3 separate regions of the Homo sapiens genome follow, and regions 2 and 3 are each reported to be linked to region 1. The links are microRNA targets in miRTarBase. Many come from high-throughput screens and were not tested one by one. Region 1 holds a microRNA gene; each other region holds the end of a gene's coding sequence. Distances are from middle to middle.
The links. The annotated mature microRNA hsa-miR-331-3p reads GCCCCUGGGCCUAUCCUAGAA and lies in region 1 at 1,748-1,768, opposite strand. An mRNA with a match to its seed (bases 2 to 7 or 8) in the 3' UTR can be bound and repressed. Matches are read on the target gene's strand: a 7mer-m8 pairs with bases 2 to 8, a 7mer-A1 pairs with bases 2 to 7 and ends in A, and an 8mer does both.

Region 1 (5,072 bases):
TCCATTTATATGAGGTATCTAAAGTAGTGAAATTCATAGAGAAAAGTAGAATGATGGTTGCCAAGGCTGTGGGGAAGGGGAAAATGGGAGTTGTTTAATGGGTATAGAGTCCCAGATTTGCAAGATGAAAAAATTCTGAAGATCTGTTTCACACCAATGTGACTGGACTTAATCTCATTGAACTATACACATAAAAATGGTTAAGATAGTAAAATTTATATGTGTTTTTAAAAATCACAATTTAAAAGATGCAAAAAAAGAGAGTACTTTGCCCATCCCCCCAAAGACTATAATCTCAAGTCTTCAGGTAGGGTAGGAAATGTACTACCCTAATATATAAAACACAATTAATCAAAAAGTAAAAATGAAAATACCTCTGAAAGAATATTCTCAAATGATATTTTTTAAAAATCACAGTTTAACACTCAACTAAGTGTCTGGATTGAATGTAGACTTCAAAAACTTACTACGTAAACAAGCTATAACTTTTTAACTCTTCACAAATTCCTATTTTCAGTGTTCATAATGAACAAGGTTTAAAAAAGTGGAAAGGCTCCCAAAATACTGAGAACATATATGTATATAAATCAAGGATGGGTTCACTCATTTCAAGCTATGTCAAGAAGTCTATGGGATGAAGCATGTCTGTTGTGATGGATATAGTACAGAACTAACTCCACGGCTGAGTTCTTCAGAGTGAGCCTCTGTAGGCTCATAGTCCTATTTTAAAGGAATAACCTATTGACCCAATTTGCTGGTGTTATAAGCTTGGAGGAATAGCACAATTTCAAGTTCCTTTCACAGGTGGAGTTTCTGATTAGTCTGTGGTTATTTGAAACATGGTCTACACCTACTGCAGAAGCCAGCATTATTAAAAGCATACATTTTCATTGTGCACCATAACTTTTGGATTTGGGGTCGTTTCATACTTTTTCAGAAATACTGTCTTCTAAATTAAACAGAAAAACATCTATGTGAATATAGCGATGCAACAGTTGTGATATGAGACCATGTGATGGATCAACTAGGTCAGAATATTTGTAAAATCCAGAGTGGCAAGGAATAAAAATAGAGAAACTTACTAAAAATCTTCTACAAAATAGTGATGTAAAATGTGACGTATTAACCAATTTCTACTGTGTCATTCTAGCTTGTTTTCATTAACCATAGCAGAACTTCTAAAAGTGAGCTCTAAAATGTGGCAAATTTGATAATAAATTAAGGAAAAAGTCATTAGTCTCCAAAAACAAGAATTGAAAATCATTTGGCACTGAAGCCAGATGGCAAAGACTAAATGCTCTTCAGAAATTATGAACAATTATTCAGTTACATGAGACTGACATAACAGTGTCAAGTAGAAAAACATTTAAGAAAACAGAAACCATTAAATTTGGGGGAGAGTTTAATTTGGAGGAAGAAGTTGATTTTGGGGTTTTTTAGGGCTAAGTTGCTTCAGCTAAAAATATAGAACTGATAATAAACAAGAATAGCTCTCTTCACTGGCAATAATATCTGTATGGAATTTCTATTGCGAGAAATTACTATAATGCCAAAGGCTGGGAAGACTTTGTTACCCAATGTCATCCCTCTAATTTTAGAAGGATTAACCAACCAATTTTTGCTAAAATGTAGGCACACATACCAAAAAATGTGAATCTTGGTGAATATAGGATGTCTGGTAGGCCTCAGGTTATCTTCAGTCTTCACACTCTTGATGTTCCAGGAATGATGCGCGAGCTTAGGTTGGTTCTAGGATAGGCCCAGGGGCCTGGTTTGATCTGGGATCCCTGGGACCATACCTAGAACAAACCCAAACAAAACCAAACTCCTTGGGAGTGCTTTCAGCTCAGGTAGACTTCTGGGCTTTTCACCCATATGGACCTCCACGACTGTACCAGGACCATATACCAACCTTTAAGGGATGGGAGTGACATTTCTGGAGCCTTCTGTACGTTGTCAGCTGATAGTACTGTGCCTGAGTAAGCATTATTTAAGTCATGGTATGAACAGAAGGTAACAGATTGGTGCAATAAAAGTGCAGAAAATACTTTGATTTAGAAATGAAGTTAATTTCCTTAAGAATTTACTTAAGGAAGGGGAAAAGGATATGCTTTGTTTAGGATATTATAAAAGAGTAAACTTATAAAAGACATGCTTTAGTTTTAGAAAAATTCTTCAATAATATTCATTTGTAGGTAGCTAAGCTTTAGGAAATGATATAAAACTGAAAAACATAAAGCCTAAAACAGTAAAATTATCCTTTAAGAAAATCTTAGGATATAAATAGGAGAGGAAATATATATATCCATAGCCATATCTCACAGAATATACTGATTTTAAAGGATAATGCAGTCAAGAGAATATGCAGCTTAAATACTGTACTATTGCAATAATATGTTGCTAAATGAAGTTCAATACATAGAGATAAAACTAATTTCATTGCTGACAAGCTAAAATACATTAAAATATATACCATAAAAAATACTATATGCACTTTAATTTATCACACATTTCATTTTCCTTCTTTTTTTTTTTTTTTTTTTTTTTGAGACAGAGTTTCACTCTTGTTGCCCAGGCTGGAGTGCATTGGCACAATCTCGGCTCACCAAAACCTCCGACTCCCAGGTTCAAGCGATTCTCCTGCCTCAGCCTCCTGAGTAGCTGGGATTACAGGCATGAACCACCATATCCGGCTAATTTTGTATTTTTAGTAGAGACGGGGTTTCTCCATGTTGGTCAGGCGGTTCTTGAACTCCCGACCTCAGGTGATCCGCCCACCTGGGCCTCCCAAACTGCTGGGATTACAGGTGTGAACCACCACGCCCAGCCCATTTTCATTTATTTATTTTTGAGACAAGGTCTCTCGTTCTGTTGCCCAGGCTGGAGTGCAGTGGTGCAATCATGGCTCACTGCAGCTGTGGCCTCCTGGGCTCAAGTGATCCTCCTGCCTCAGCCTACTGAGCAGCTGGGACTACAGGTGTGTGCCACCACATCCAGCTAATTTTTAAGTTTTTCTGTAGAGACCAAGTCTTGCTGTTTCTTGCCTAAGCTGGTCTTGAACTCCTGGCCTCAAGAGATCCTCCTGCCTCAGCCTCTCAAAGTGCTAGGATTGTAGGTGTGAGCCACTACGTCCTAGCTTATCACACATTTTAGAATATCTATAAAATCAGTTCCTCCTTATTCATGCTAAACTTTTACATGTGTGAATCCTTGAATCAATTAATCCTCTTTTTGGTTTACAGCAATTACACTGAATAGAATCACTTTCCTCTCACAACTACACTCAGAAGTTTTCTTCTTTTATCACTGACCTGGCTTTGGTATCTTGACTATCTCTTCTATAATGGCAGTCTCAACTCAAGAAACTGGTTTGGACCACCTATCTTTTTTTTTTTTTTTTGAGATGAAGTCTTACTCTGTCACCCAGGCTGGAGTGCAATGGCGCAATCTCGGCTCACTGTAACCTCCGCCTCCCGGGTTCAAGTGATTCTCCTGCCTCAGCCTACTGAGTAGCTAGAATTATAGGCAGGTACCACCACCACGCCCGGCTAATTTTTGTATTTTTAGTAGAGACGGGGTTTCACCATGTTGGTCAGGCTGGTCTCGAACTCCTGACCTCGTGATCCACCTGCCTCGGCCTCCCAAAGTGCTGGGATTACAGGCGTGAGCCACCGCGCCCAGCCTGGACCACTTATCTTTTATGATTATTATACCACAGATCCCTTCCATTAGCATGGATAACTGAATGCCGACTATGAGGCATGGTCATAAAATAAACAGACTGATTTGACAGTTACTTTGTAATGAAAACATGAGTCAATATATGGTTACTAAAATAATCAGCATGTTGCTAAAAATAAGTTGTTTGATGCTAGGATATCCATTTCTATACAGATTTGACTTTTACTTGTAAATATTATAGTGTGCAAATTTTATTTTTCATTCAAGAGAGAAAAGTGATCCTGCTTAATTATTAAATATTAAATTACAATTTAATCATGCCCAGTACAGAATGACAGTGGGAATTTAGTCATTCAAATATCTGCCAATATCATTAGATCTAACACTGATAACTTTTGGTAAGCTTTTAACGTCCGCTTACTATAGCTGAATAAAAATAAAGACCCTGTTTTTAAAACTAGCATAATCAAAAAATAAATTCTTTGTGGTATAATTGCCTATAGTCTATAAATTTTATTACTTCTCAGGTCTCTGTGACATTAATAGTGAATGTTTTCTTATTTTTCAGGGCTTAATCTATTTTCATGTCTTGGAAATGAAGATACATTTCTCTCTTAAAAAAAAAAAAAAAAAAAAAAAAAAAGCCGGCTGGGCGCTGTGGCTCATGCCTGTAATCCCAGCACTTTGGGAGGCCAAGGACGGCAGATCACAAGGTCAGGAGATCGAGACCATCCTGGCTAACACGGTGAAAACCCATCTCTACTAAAAATACAAAAAAATAGCCGGAGTGGTGGCGGGCGCCTGTAGTCCCAGCTACTCCGGAGGCTGAGGCAGAAGAATGGCGTGAACTTGGGAGGCGGACCTTGCAGTGAGCCGAGATTGCACCACTGCACTCCAGCCTCGGCAACAGAGTGAGACTCTGTCTCAAACAAAACAAAACAACAACAAAAAAAAAGCCAAAGAAATTCTTAACAGCATGTAGTCTCCAATTCAAATAGAAAATACTATAGAAAATGCTAACTTGAGTGGACCAGTTTTAATCAGCGCCAAATAATTCTAGTATAGAACTAACTTTAGAGAAAGTAAAGTATGTAAACAAAATAGTTCCTTTTGTACCATAACAACTTTTCTATTTTGAGAGCAGGTATCTAATTCGGTAGCTTCACTTATTTTAACGATAGCAATGAAACAGGTAGTAAAGTAACAGATGTCACAAAATCCATGCATTTAAGCATAATCCACTTCCTCAAGTCTTCACTTTGAGTTTATTTATTCTTACTTTACACAGAAGTCTAATAAACTTAGTTTGTCTGGTCTCCAAAATGAAAGCAGATCAGAAGGCACATTATGAAGGTGGAGAAGGGCTACTGCTACAGGCACACTTAAGCAAG
Region 2 (5,072 bases), not on the chromosome of region 1:
AGAGTTCACAGGAGATCTAGGGCAGAGTTTCCAAGCTGCAGCTGCTCTGGCCCTGTGTGAGCTGCTGCTCTGAGGAAGCCCCAGGCTGAGGCAGCTACCAGGCGGAGGCTGGGTTTGGAGGCCTCCACATCAGGGAATTGAGCGGTAGGGGTTTCAGCCTTCACGTTGGTCGCCGCACTGTATGGGAAGTGGGGTCTGGGGTCTGCTTGCCCAGTCTCACCGTCCTCTTCCTCCCCAAAGCCGCCTGGATAAGGGGCTGGCCGCACTGGTGCGGGAGCGTGGCGCGGATCTGGTGGTCATCGAGGGCATGGGCCGTGCTGTCCACACAAACTACCACGCAGCCCTGCGCTGCGAGAGCCTCAAGCTGGCCGTCATCAAGAACGCGTGGCTGGCCGAGCGGCTGGGCGGCCGGCTCTTCAGCGTCATCTTCAAGTACGAGGTCCCAGCCGAGTGAGGCGCTGCAGCTGCCGGACTCTTCTGCTTGTCACTTGTCAGGAATGTGTTTTTACCACCACAGGGAAACTGCGTTCAAATCAACGTATTTATATGGTACTGCTGTGACGCGGCACATACACCCCAGCCGCACAGATGCGTGTGACCCAGAGGCGAGACGCAGCTTTGTCCTGGGAGACGTTCATATTGGAATCTATTTAACTGCTAAAGAACCTTTTATATATATATATATATAAATAGAGAGATCTATACAGGTATGTCTGACGGGACGCAGCACCGTGGGCACGCACCAAATAGAGTTTTTAAAAGAGGCCGGAGCCATCTGCGATGTTTTATTTCGGAGCAGGGGCCCCTCCCGACTCCTCCCATGGGGGGAGCCCAGAGCGGGAGCCCTTCCCTGCGCTGCTTCTAGACCTTGTAGGCAACGAGTGCCAGCCGCCCCGCAGACCCCATGGCCCCGGGCCCCTGCGTCTCTCACCGCTCCCTCCGGGCCAGAAGAACCAACTCAGCCACCCTCGTCCCTCCAGCGCCCTCCCCCTGCACCTGCGGGATGTGTGGGTGCTGAGCAGCAATTCCTGACTCGAGAGCCTGGGAAAGGAGCCCTCGACATCGATCACCCTCAAGGGCTCTCAGGCAGCCAGGGGCCGACGTGGACCCTGCTAGGAACTGTGTGGACCGCGTGGGTTTGGTTGCTATGGCCTTGGGACCAGGCTCCCTGGGGCCGTGTTCTGTGGCTAGGGTGGGCATGGCTGGGGGGAGCTGGCAGCAGGGAGGCCCGCTGGGCCTGGCCCCTGGGAGCTCTGAGGCGCCTGGGGGTCCTCCCCCTCAGCCCAGGTGTGGGATTGAGACCACACATAGCATCGTAGAGAGGGCAGGAGGGCACAGGGCTTGCGGAGGCCCTGCTGGGGTGGGCTGGCTGCAGGCCCCCAGCTTTGACTTCATGTGGTGGGAGCTGTTCCTGGTGCTGAGCTGCTGGGCAGGCCCTGAGGAGGCTGAGCTGCTACCTTGCCCCACCACCCCCACCCCCGCTGGGGTCCCCCACATCCAGAGGCTTCACTGAGACCCCCAAGCACAGGCTGTCCTAGGCCAAGGAGGTGGGGTGGCATGGATCACCTTCCAGACAGCTTTGCTTGGTGGTCTGGAACCTGCAGAGGCTAAGACCCCTCCCTCATGGAGACCTGGCCTGCCCAGAGGTGCCCAGTGGCCATTTCTGGCCCCCACTGTGGTGTCTCTTCGTGACCTGCCCTTGGAGTCTGCGTGGAACCTGAGTCCCAGCCCTCGTGCAGCGGCCACCAAAGGGTCTCGTGTCCTGGCAGAGGAGCCCGGGGGCAGCTGGGCTATCCTGAGGTGGACTGTCCCCCTGGCTCCAGCTTCTCCCTCCTGTGGGTCCCCAGGGCAGAGGCCCAGCCCCCGGAACCCCATGGGCCCTCACCACTTTCCGGCCCTCTCCTCAGGCCCGGCTCTCTGATGGGGAAGCCCTCCCAGCCTGCATCTCTGTAGCCTTCCCTGACCCCACTCGGCCCCTCCAGCTCTTGCTCCCATCCTGGCCCCACCCTCACTGGTGGTGGGTGGCAGCAGTGGCCTGGCCGCTCTGGGCACCCGGATGTGTGACTGCCTGGCCTGACACCCACAGGGCTTGACCCCGGGGTTGGAGAGTCCATCTGTGCTGGGGACGCACCCACTACAGAGGTTTGGCCTGAGCCTGGCCCAGACAGGATGCCGAGGAGGAGGTGGGGGATGCACAGAGGCCTGGAAGGACAGAGCCAGGACAAAGACACCAGGGCCTAGCCCAGGCTCAGCCCCTGCACACCCCCATGCAGGGCCTGCCGGTGGCCACGGCCTCAGCTCCCCTCTTGCACAAGGGGCCACCCAGCCTATGAGCCAGGCACCCCTGTGCCTCCGGGCAACCCCAGCCTCTGTGACCCCAGCCCTTCCCCAGCCCTTTCCCAGCCCTTCCCCAGCCCTTTCCCGCCGAAGCCGGAGCTGGAGCAGGAGGGCTCTGGCCTCTGCCTTGTTCCCTTGATGTGGCCATTTCAACGGCGCTTTCCTCAAAACACGAGCTGGCCCCAGGCCCTCAGCCCCTCCTTGACTCCCGCAGACCCCCAGCTGGCTCCCCAACCTCTGCCCTGCCCACGGCACCACTTGGGGGCTCGCCAGGAGGCCTCGGTCACCAGGCTGCTGTCAGTGTCACTGCCGGGGGCTCTGTGAGTCCCCTGTCCCAGAGCTGAGACTCCTCAGGTTCAGGTGCCGCCCCGGGCCCCAGGCAACCAGCTCACCACACCCCTGCTCTCGGTGGGGCTGCAGCTGCCCACACGCAAGTGTTCTGGGGCTCGAGGATGACGAAGTCCTGCCAGGCTCTCTCTGAGGGGCGTGGTGGGGCTGGGGGAAGGGCGGCACCAGTGGCCCCTCTGCCTGGCTGAGCTGGGGAAGTGGTGACAGCGATTCCTGTGGCCGCCCACAATCCCTGTCAGTGCAGGAACATGGTGAGGGCAGAACAGCCCCCTTAGAGCTCCCCCAGCACCCCAGGATCCCGGCCTCCGGGCCTCAGGCCCGCCTTCCCAAGGGCCCTGCCTGGGCACAACGCAGCCAGGGGTGAGACGGGATACCCCGACAGAGCAGTGCTCATCCGGGTGGTGCGCCGGGCAGGCCCCTTGGGCAGCCGCAGGTGACAGAGCCTCATGGGGCAGGACATCCCCTGACTCCCCTGGCCACAGGGTGGGCCACACCCACTCCCACTGTTGGGGCAGCAGAGGACGGGCTGCAGCACAGGCTTCCAGAGGCCCGACCAGCACCCCAGCTTCTCTAGGGTAGGGGCCTTTCTGGAACCACCATGCTCTGCAGGCAGAGCAGTCCCCCGGGTTGGGGGGCCTGTGGCCCGGGGTTAGGGCCTGCGTCCTGAGGAGCAGGCTTTGCAGCCTACCCTGGGAGCCTGTCCAGCTCAGCCCTCTGAGGACAGGCCAGGTCTTTTCTTGGGGTGTCTTCTGGGCCTGGCGCAGGCTCCGACGGGCACCTGGTAAGTAAGTGGCACAGGAGGCTGAGCGAACGGGAAGCCCATGCGTGCTGGTGAGCACGTTTATCAGAACCACGTTTGGGAGTTGACAGAGGCTTAGGCATGGTGCAGAGGGTGGCGTGGTCGGTGCAAGGCAGATACAGGCTTCAGGGCAAGGCCCAGACGGCCGTCCTGAGCAGCCCTGGTGCCTCACAAGCACCCCCGCCTGTGCCGTGGCCAGGTCAGCCGCGCCTCCCGGGGCAGGCTCAGGACAGGTGCGCACAGATGCACACCACACACACCTGGGGTGAAAAACCAGGTAAAAATGGAAAGGGACTTGGTATCATTTTAATGTTGTATAAGTTTTGCTTCTAAAAATTTAAATATTTCTCTATGTACAGATCCTAAAACGCCGGGAAAACTGCCTGGCAGGGCCAGCCTCGAAGCCCCTCCTGTGGGCCCCGGGCCAGCAGCTTTAGCCTTTCCTCCCCGGGAGCAGGGGCAGGAGGGAGGCAGGGGTGGAGGGGACACAGGGCAGCCAGGGGGACACAGTTTTGGGGGCCTGGCTGCCCTGTTTCCTGAGCAAACAACACGCCCACCCCTGCCCTGGGCCTCCAGAGCCGCCCAGGTTCCCACCACTGACGGTCAGAGGCGGAGCAGGACCAGGTTTTCAGCAGCCGCGGATGCTGGCCCGAGGGCTCCCTTGGAGGGTGCTGGTGCATCCACACTGCCCTCGTGGCCCACGGAGCAGGCGCCCTCGGGGGTGCCCCGCTCCTCTTCTGGGGGTCCCTGCCGGCCCAGGCCCTGCAGTCTCTGCTGCCGCTCCTGGGCCTGGCGGGCCCGGCTGGCAATGGCACGCACGCGGCTGTGGCTGCGGGAGGAGGAGCGCCGCACAAAACCAGGGCCCCCTGCCACCCCCTCCCCAGCCGGGCCCAGGCTGGTGGGTGACGTGATGTCTCCTGCCTGCTGGAAGACAGTGAGCCAGCGCAGCTGCTCTGTCAGGGTGTCCCGTCTCACCCCTGGCCCCGACACCCGCCGTGTCCCTCCCGGGAGGCCCAGGCTGTGGCTCAGTCTGCGGGAGCCGCCCTCAAAGCTAGGGGCAAAGTCATCAGCAGTGAGGTCGCCCAGGCTCTTGGACTTGGCAGCCACGGGGCAGTCCTGCACGCCCACCAGGGAAAGGCAGCCCCAGGGAGGCCGGAAGGGGAGGCCAGCCATCCTTGGGGCCAGGGACCTGGGCTGCAGTTCGTCAGGTATGGGAGGCCGCTGGCCTGTAGCCCGAAGGTTGGGGTTGGATTTGCTCTTGGTCACAGGTGGCAGGTCTGGGCGGGCAGCCGAAGCCGAGTGGGGCCTGGGGGGCAGGCGTCCCATGTGGGCTCCAGCGAGGTTCTCACGGCTGCGGCCCAGGCCCAGGCTGGGCAGGGAGAGGTCAATGACAGTGTCGCTGGATGACATGCTGGAGGAGGAGGAAACGCTGTCTCGGTGGCCACATGGCTCCAGCCGCTGCCACAGCGGGTCACTGCCCGTGGCATCGGAGTACACGGCAGGAGCTGGAAAGGGAGCGGCCAGGGGCCGCCACCCTCCCAGGGGCTCCGTGGGCACCTGCCCCTCACTCTTCACCCTTCTAATCACG
Region 3 (5,072 bases), 89 Mb from region 1:
AGACATATGCAGAGACTACTGGTGGCAGTACTAGCCTTGTATTTCAGTAGAATATATTTGGTTCATTTCCTTCTTCCCAGTCTCCCTGAGTGATGGTTCCAGAACCCAGCTCCCTGCACTCCGGTTCTTCCAAGGTGGAGAAATTGGGGTGTAGGCAGCTGATCTGAACAAGGGCTGGTGGCACTGTATTTTCCCCCTGGGTTGAACAGTCACCGTGTCCTGCTCCTCCCACTACTGTGGGGCCCCAGCTGTGGATCCAAGCCTGCCAGGGAAGCTGTCCCCACTAGGGCTTCTCACCCAGCCAGCCGCCATCTCACCCCAAATGTCACTGTCCTGACCATCTCTGCTGTCTGGCCCTGTAACCTGTTTCCTTCTTTCTCTAAGTTCCCACCCTCTCTGTCCAATCCACATTATGGCAGCTGGTATCCTCCCCGTTCTCTTCACTCAGGCAGTCACGAACGTCATCTCCAGGAAGTTTCATTTTGCTTCCCCTTGCGGCCCCTGCCCTTTGTACCCAAAACAAAGAGAGGCAGTCGACTGTCCCTGGCACTGAGTTTGTGCTGCCTGGGCCCTGCCTCTCCGCCTGCCTCAGAGTGTGGGCTGCAGAATGGGCCCGGGGAGGGAGACCGGATTTCTTTGATTCTGAGCCCCGTGTTTTCCACGTGTGACATTTCTGAAATCAGGACAGGTCTCAGAATCAATGGCACCTCCAATATGGGAGTCTTCCTTTTAGTGTCTGAAAATGGCTTTTAGGTGAGAAAATAAAGTGATAAGGAGAGAATGGTAAGAGGATTGGGCCCCTTTCAGCAGTTAGCCAGGCTTGTATGCCACGGGTCACAGAGAGAGTTAATTCCCTTCGAGGTCTGGGTCTGCCAGGATGAGGAAAACCTGTCGCTAACCCTTACGGGAGCTCACAGTGCAGTGAGGGGACAGCCCAGGACCAGCGCAGTACAGGGGATGAGGGGTGAGCCGGGCCCCATAGGAACCTGTGTGGCCCTGGGAGCCTGTGGATCTGCTCCATCCCGCCCACACTGACTTTCCTCACCACTCTTATCAGTCTTAAAAGAACACAGCCTGCAGCAGTACCTTTGCATTCCTCCATAGGCAAAGATTTCCAGGAAAAGCAGAGGAAACAATGGTGTATTCGCTGCCTTCTGCCTTGGTCTGGTTTATTTTAAAATCTGAGCCTTCAGTAATGGCTGCCTGGGCCCCCGGCCCAGCCACTGCTCTTGGCGTGTTGGCCTCCTGGCGGGGGCAACAGAGGCGCTGTGAACGCCACCTGTTAACCCCGATGGCCCTGCCTGCCCCACCACAGCTGGAGTTGGCCACGGCCAAGAACGACATGAACCGGCACCTGCACGAGTACATGGAGATGTGCAGCATGAAGCGCGGCCTGGACGTGCAGATGGAGACCTGCCGCCGGCTCATCACCCAGTCTGGAGACCGGTAGGCGCCTCCCCTGGGCATGGGGCCTTCCAGGGGGACACAGCGGGGAGAAAGGTTGGAACACAGCCCCAGAGACCCTCAGGCAATGACTGGGTCACATCTTGCTGTGGGGCTGCCCTTTGGGAGTTACCTGGTGGGGCTGGCCCAGACCCACAGCTCTCTCCCTTGGCAGTTGGATGAGCTATGTCCATTCATGACGGGAGGGCTGAAACCTCCCAAGGCCACCAGCTCTGGTGGTTCCCCTGGTTAGAGGCAGTTTAAAAACTGGCAAGGAACAGAAGGGTTGTGGGGGCAGATTTTTATCTAAAGTCAGGGCCATGATTTGTGCATTTGACCCTGTGTAAGTTACACCGCAACAAGAAAGTGAATTTTTAAAAATCACAAAAATACTGCAGATAGACATAAAGCCAAGGCCCTAGAGTCAGGGTGCTGGAGGCTCAGCAGCTTCTCTCCTACTGTGACTTCAGCTATTTCTTTTTTTTTTTTTTTTGGCTCACTACAACCTCCGCCTCCCAGGTTCAAGTGATTATCTTGCCTCAGCCTCCAAGGCGCCCGCCACCACACCTGGCTAATTTTTGCATTTTTAGTAGAGATGGGGTTTCACCATGTTGGCCAGGCTTGCCTTGAACTCCTGACGTCGTGATCCACCCGCCTCTGCCTCCCAAAGTGCTGGAATTACAGGCGTGAGCCATCATGCCTGACCTCAGCCTCTGAGTTCCCAAGACACAGGCGGGGCCCATTTCCCTGTCAGGGTGGGTTTGGAGAGAGTTCAGTCCCTGCCGCTCCCTCGCCATCCCGCGGCCCCGCCCTCGCTTCCGGTACTTCTCACGGGCTGCCAGAGGGTGAGGCAGCAGGAGGAGGAGTGCCGTCCGTCTTCAGGATTCCTGCCTGCCCCAAGGTTGACAACTGGTGTTTTTTTCTAGAAAGTCTCCTGCTTTCACTGCGGTCCCGCTTAGCGACCCGCCGCCGCCGCCAAGCGAGGCTGAGGACTCCGATCGCGATGTCTCATCTGACAGCTCCATGAGATAGAGACCTGCCTCCCCCTTGCACCCGAGGCCCTCGCAGCAGGGAGCTCAGCGAGGCAGAGGGTGGGGCTGCACAGAGGGGAACATCAGCTGCAGCTCTGCACCAGGCCGGTCCCTGGGGACTGGGGCGCTCCTCCCTCAGGCTTTCTCCCTCAGTCTTGGCTTCTCCAGGGCTCTGGGGTGTCTGGAGCTAGGCTTGGCCCTACCATTCTGGGGCCATTTCCACCACAGTTGGGGCTCTCCTGCCTTCACGCGTGGGTGTCTGCTACTTCCCCATCTTTAAAATGCTGCCAGAGCGATTGCGGCCCCTCACCTTGTCCACGTATCAGGAATGTGAATGTGGGACCTTTCCTCCATCCCTGTTGTCCGGAGCCAGCTCACTGTCTTCCACACTGGTGCTAACTGGCCCAGGCACTGGAGTGGAATAGAATGCAGCTGGAGGCTACGCATGGCCTCTGCAGCACACGCAGCTGGAGAGGGCTTCTGTCCCTGTCAGCGGCAGAGGGCGTTGGGGCTGGCCGGGGCACCTTGTCCCTGCTATGGTCCACGTGCTCACGCTGTCCACCTGCCAGGTGGAGTGTATGTGGCTGTGGCCCTCCCTCGTGGAGGTGCCGTGCTTTAAAGAGGCCTTAGTGCCCGGGATGGGCACAGTGTTTTGAAGGGAGGTGGGAGCTCTTGCTCTCCTGGTCACTGCAGAATGACAGAGAAGGTGAAGCTCCATGCATGTGTGCGCGGGTGTATGTGCGCTCAGGGTCTCTGTTTAAGTATCAGCTAAAGATGTGCTTCCTCCGTGTCTGTCATACACTGAGACCAACAGGCTACAGTGTCCCTGATTCTTGGAAAAGCCTGGAGAAGCTGGGGAGATGCGGTTCACAATGCCTCGGTATAGGAGGCTGTGTTGAGCTGACATTCAAATGGATTCTTTAATAATAATGAAACTGGCGAGTATTTATTGTGCACTTTGGTGTCACTGTCTCAAGCACTTCCTAATATTCACTAGTTTGAACTCTGAGGTAGGTACTTTTTTTTTTTTTGAGATGGAGTCTCATACTCTGTTGCCTAGGCTGGAGTGCAGTGGTGTGGTCTCAGCTCACTGCAGCCTCTGCCTCCGGGGTGCAAGCGATTCTCCTGCTTCAGCATGCCTGTAGCTGGGACTATAGGCATGTGCCATGAAGCCTGGCTGATTTTTGTAATTTTAGTAGAGACGGAGTTTCACCATGTTGGCCAGGCTGGTCTCAAACTCCTGACCTCAGGTGATACACCCACCTTGGCCTCCCAAAGTGCTGGGGTTACAGGCGTGCGCGCTCTACCGAGGTATGTACTTTTGTCTCCACTAGGTAAGCACACGTGCAAAGTGAGGCCCGGGAGTAACTGCCCAAAGCAACTGAGCCGTTCAGTGGCAGAGCCAGGGGTCTGGACCTAGGTCCCAGCTACACGCCTTGCCCCTACCCAAGTTCCCCTAAGGACGATGATGGAAATAAGTCACCCTGACACATCTCAGTTCATCTTCCTCAAAACTATGCGAGGTGGGCATTTTTACCGATTTTTAAACATTATATAGTCCTTACCGCCTTGGGCATGGTTTTAGGTACTTGGTTTACCTAGATGAATCCTGCTTGAAGACCTTAGGGGCTGGCCACGATGTCCTCAGATAAGACACGAGGGCACAGAAAGCAATAGAGCACGTGCTCAAGACCTCACAGCTGCGGAGGCCAAGCTGGAATTGCCCGCTGCAGCTCAGCTCCAGGCTGAGCTCCACTAACCAGTCAGCGTCAGAGCCCAGTGCGAGCCCTGACTTCCTCCACCTGTCAGCCTCCCTGGGGCTGCCCACAGAATAGCTTCTTCCATGTTTGGCCAACAGCAGATAGCCTAGGACTGGAGCGAGGAGAGGAAAAGGCCTTGTTCTCTGAAGTAGTGGTGCCAGCTTCCTGTAGCACTCAAGACGTCTGAGCGGGAAGCAAATGGTTCTCGAAGCAAGCAAGGCTGTTTGGAGGCCCTACCCTCAGTCTGAGGAGAACATACCAGGTCCCTCCCCAGCAAGAATGTCTCACCTTGACACAAGCCCAGCTTCCCTCCCCTCTGCCCCAGACCCTAGAATAAGACAGGACAAGTAACTGGTTGAGCACAGGGTACTTTATTGATGGTACATGACAAGGTGCGGCTCCCTAGGCCCCTCCCCTCTTCAAGGGGTCTACATGGCAACTGTGAGGAGGGGAGATTCAGTGTGGTGGGGGACTGAGTGTGGCAGGGACTCCCCAGCAGTGAGGGTCTCTCTCTTCCTCTTGTGCTCTTGCTGGGGCTGGTGGTCCAGGGGTCTTACTCCTTGGAGGCCATGTGGGCCATGAGGTCCACCACCCTGTTGCTGTAGCCAAATTCGTTGTCATACCTAGAAGATGAAAAGAGTTGTCAGGGCCCTTTTTCTGAGCCAGCCACCAGAGGGCGCCAGACCCTGCACTTTTTAAGAGCCAGTCTCTGGCCCCAGCCACATACCAGGAAATGAGCTTGACAAAGTGGTCGTTGAGGGCAATGCCAGCCCCAGCGTCAAAGGTGGAGGAGTGGGTGTCGCTGTTGAAGTCAGAGGAGACCACCTGGTGCTCAGTG

Region 2: the mRNA of PLCH2 is a reported target of hsa-miR-331-3p. The part of its 3' UTR that is shown has no 7-base or 8-base seed match.
Region 3: miRTarBase lists GAPDH as a target of hsa-miR-331-3p. The part of its 3' UTR that is shown has no 7-base or 8-base seed match.

The regions. Positions count from the first base shown.
Region 1 is chr12:95,305,176-95,310,247 of GRCh38, reverse strand. MIR331 (microRNA 331) reads right to left here and starts at 1,828; the gene lies at 1,735-1,828. It overlaps MIR3685 (microRNA 3685), which reads right to left and starts at 325; the gene lies at 264-325.
Region 2 is chr1:2,504,229-2,509,300 of GRCh38, reverse strand. PLCH2 (phospholipase C eta 2) reads right to left here. Exons shown (of 22, transcript NM_014638.4): 22 at 3,769-5,072. The coding sequence ends at 4,088. PANK4 (pantothenate kinase 4 (inactive)) reads left to right here. Exons shown (of 19, transcript NM_018216.4): 19 at 241-764. The coding sequence ends at 454. Among named protein-coding and RNA genes, the nearest start is that of PANK4, 20 kb to the left of the region's middle.
Region 3 is chr12:6,537,886-6,542,957 of GRCh38, reverse strand. GAPDH (glyceraldehyde-3-phosphate dehydrogenase) reads right to left here. Exons shown (of 9, transcript NM_002046.7): 8 at 4,962-5,072; 9 at 4,587-4,857. The coding sequence ends at 4,788. It overlaps IFFO1 (intermediate filament family orphan 1), which reads left to right. Exons shown (of 10, transcript NM_001193457.2): 9 at 1,316-1,446; 10 at 2,370-3,419. The coding sequence ends at 2,475. Among named protein-coding and RNA genes, the nearest start is that of GAPDH, 5.9 kb to the right of the region's middle. RefSeq lists enhancers at 2,079-2,218, 2,249-2,398, 3,179-3,388.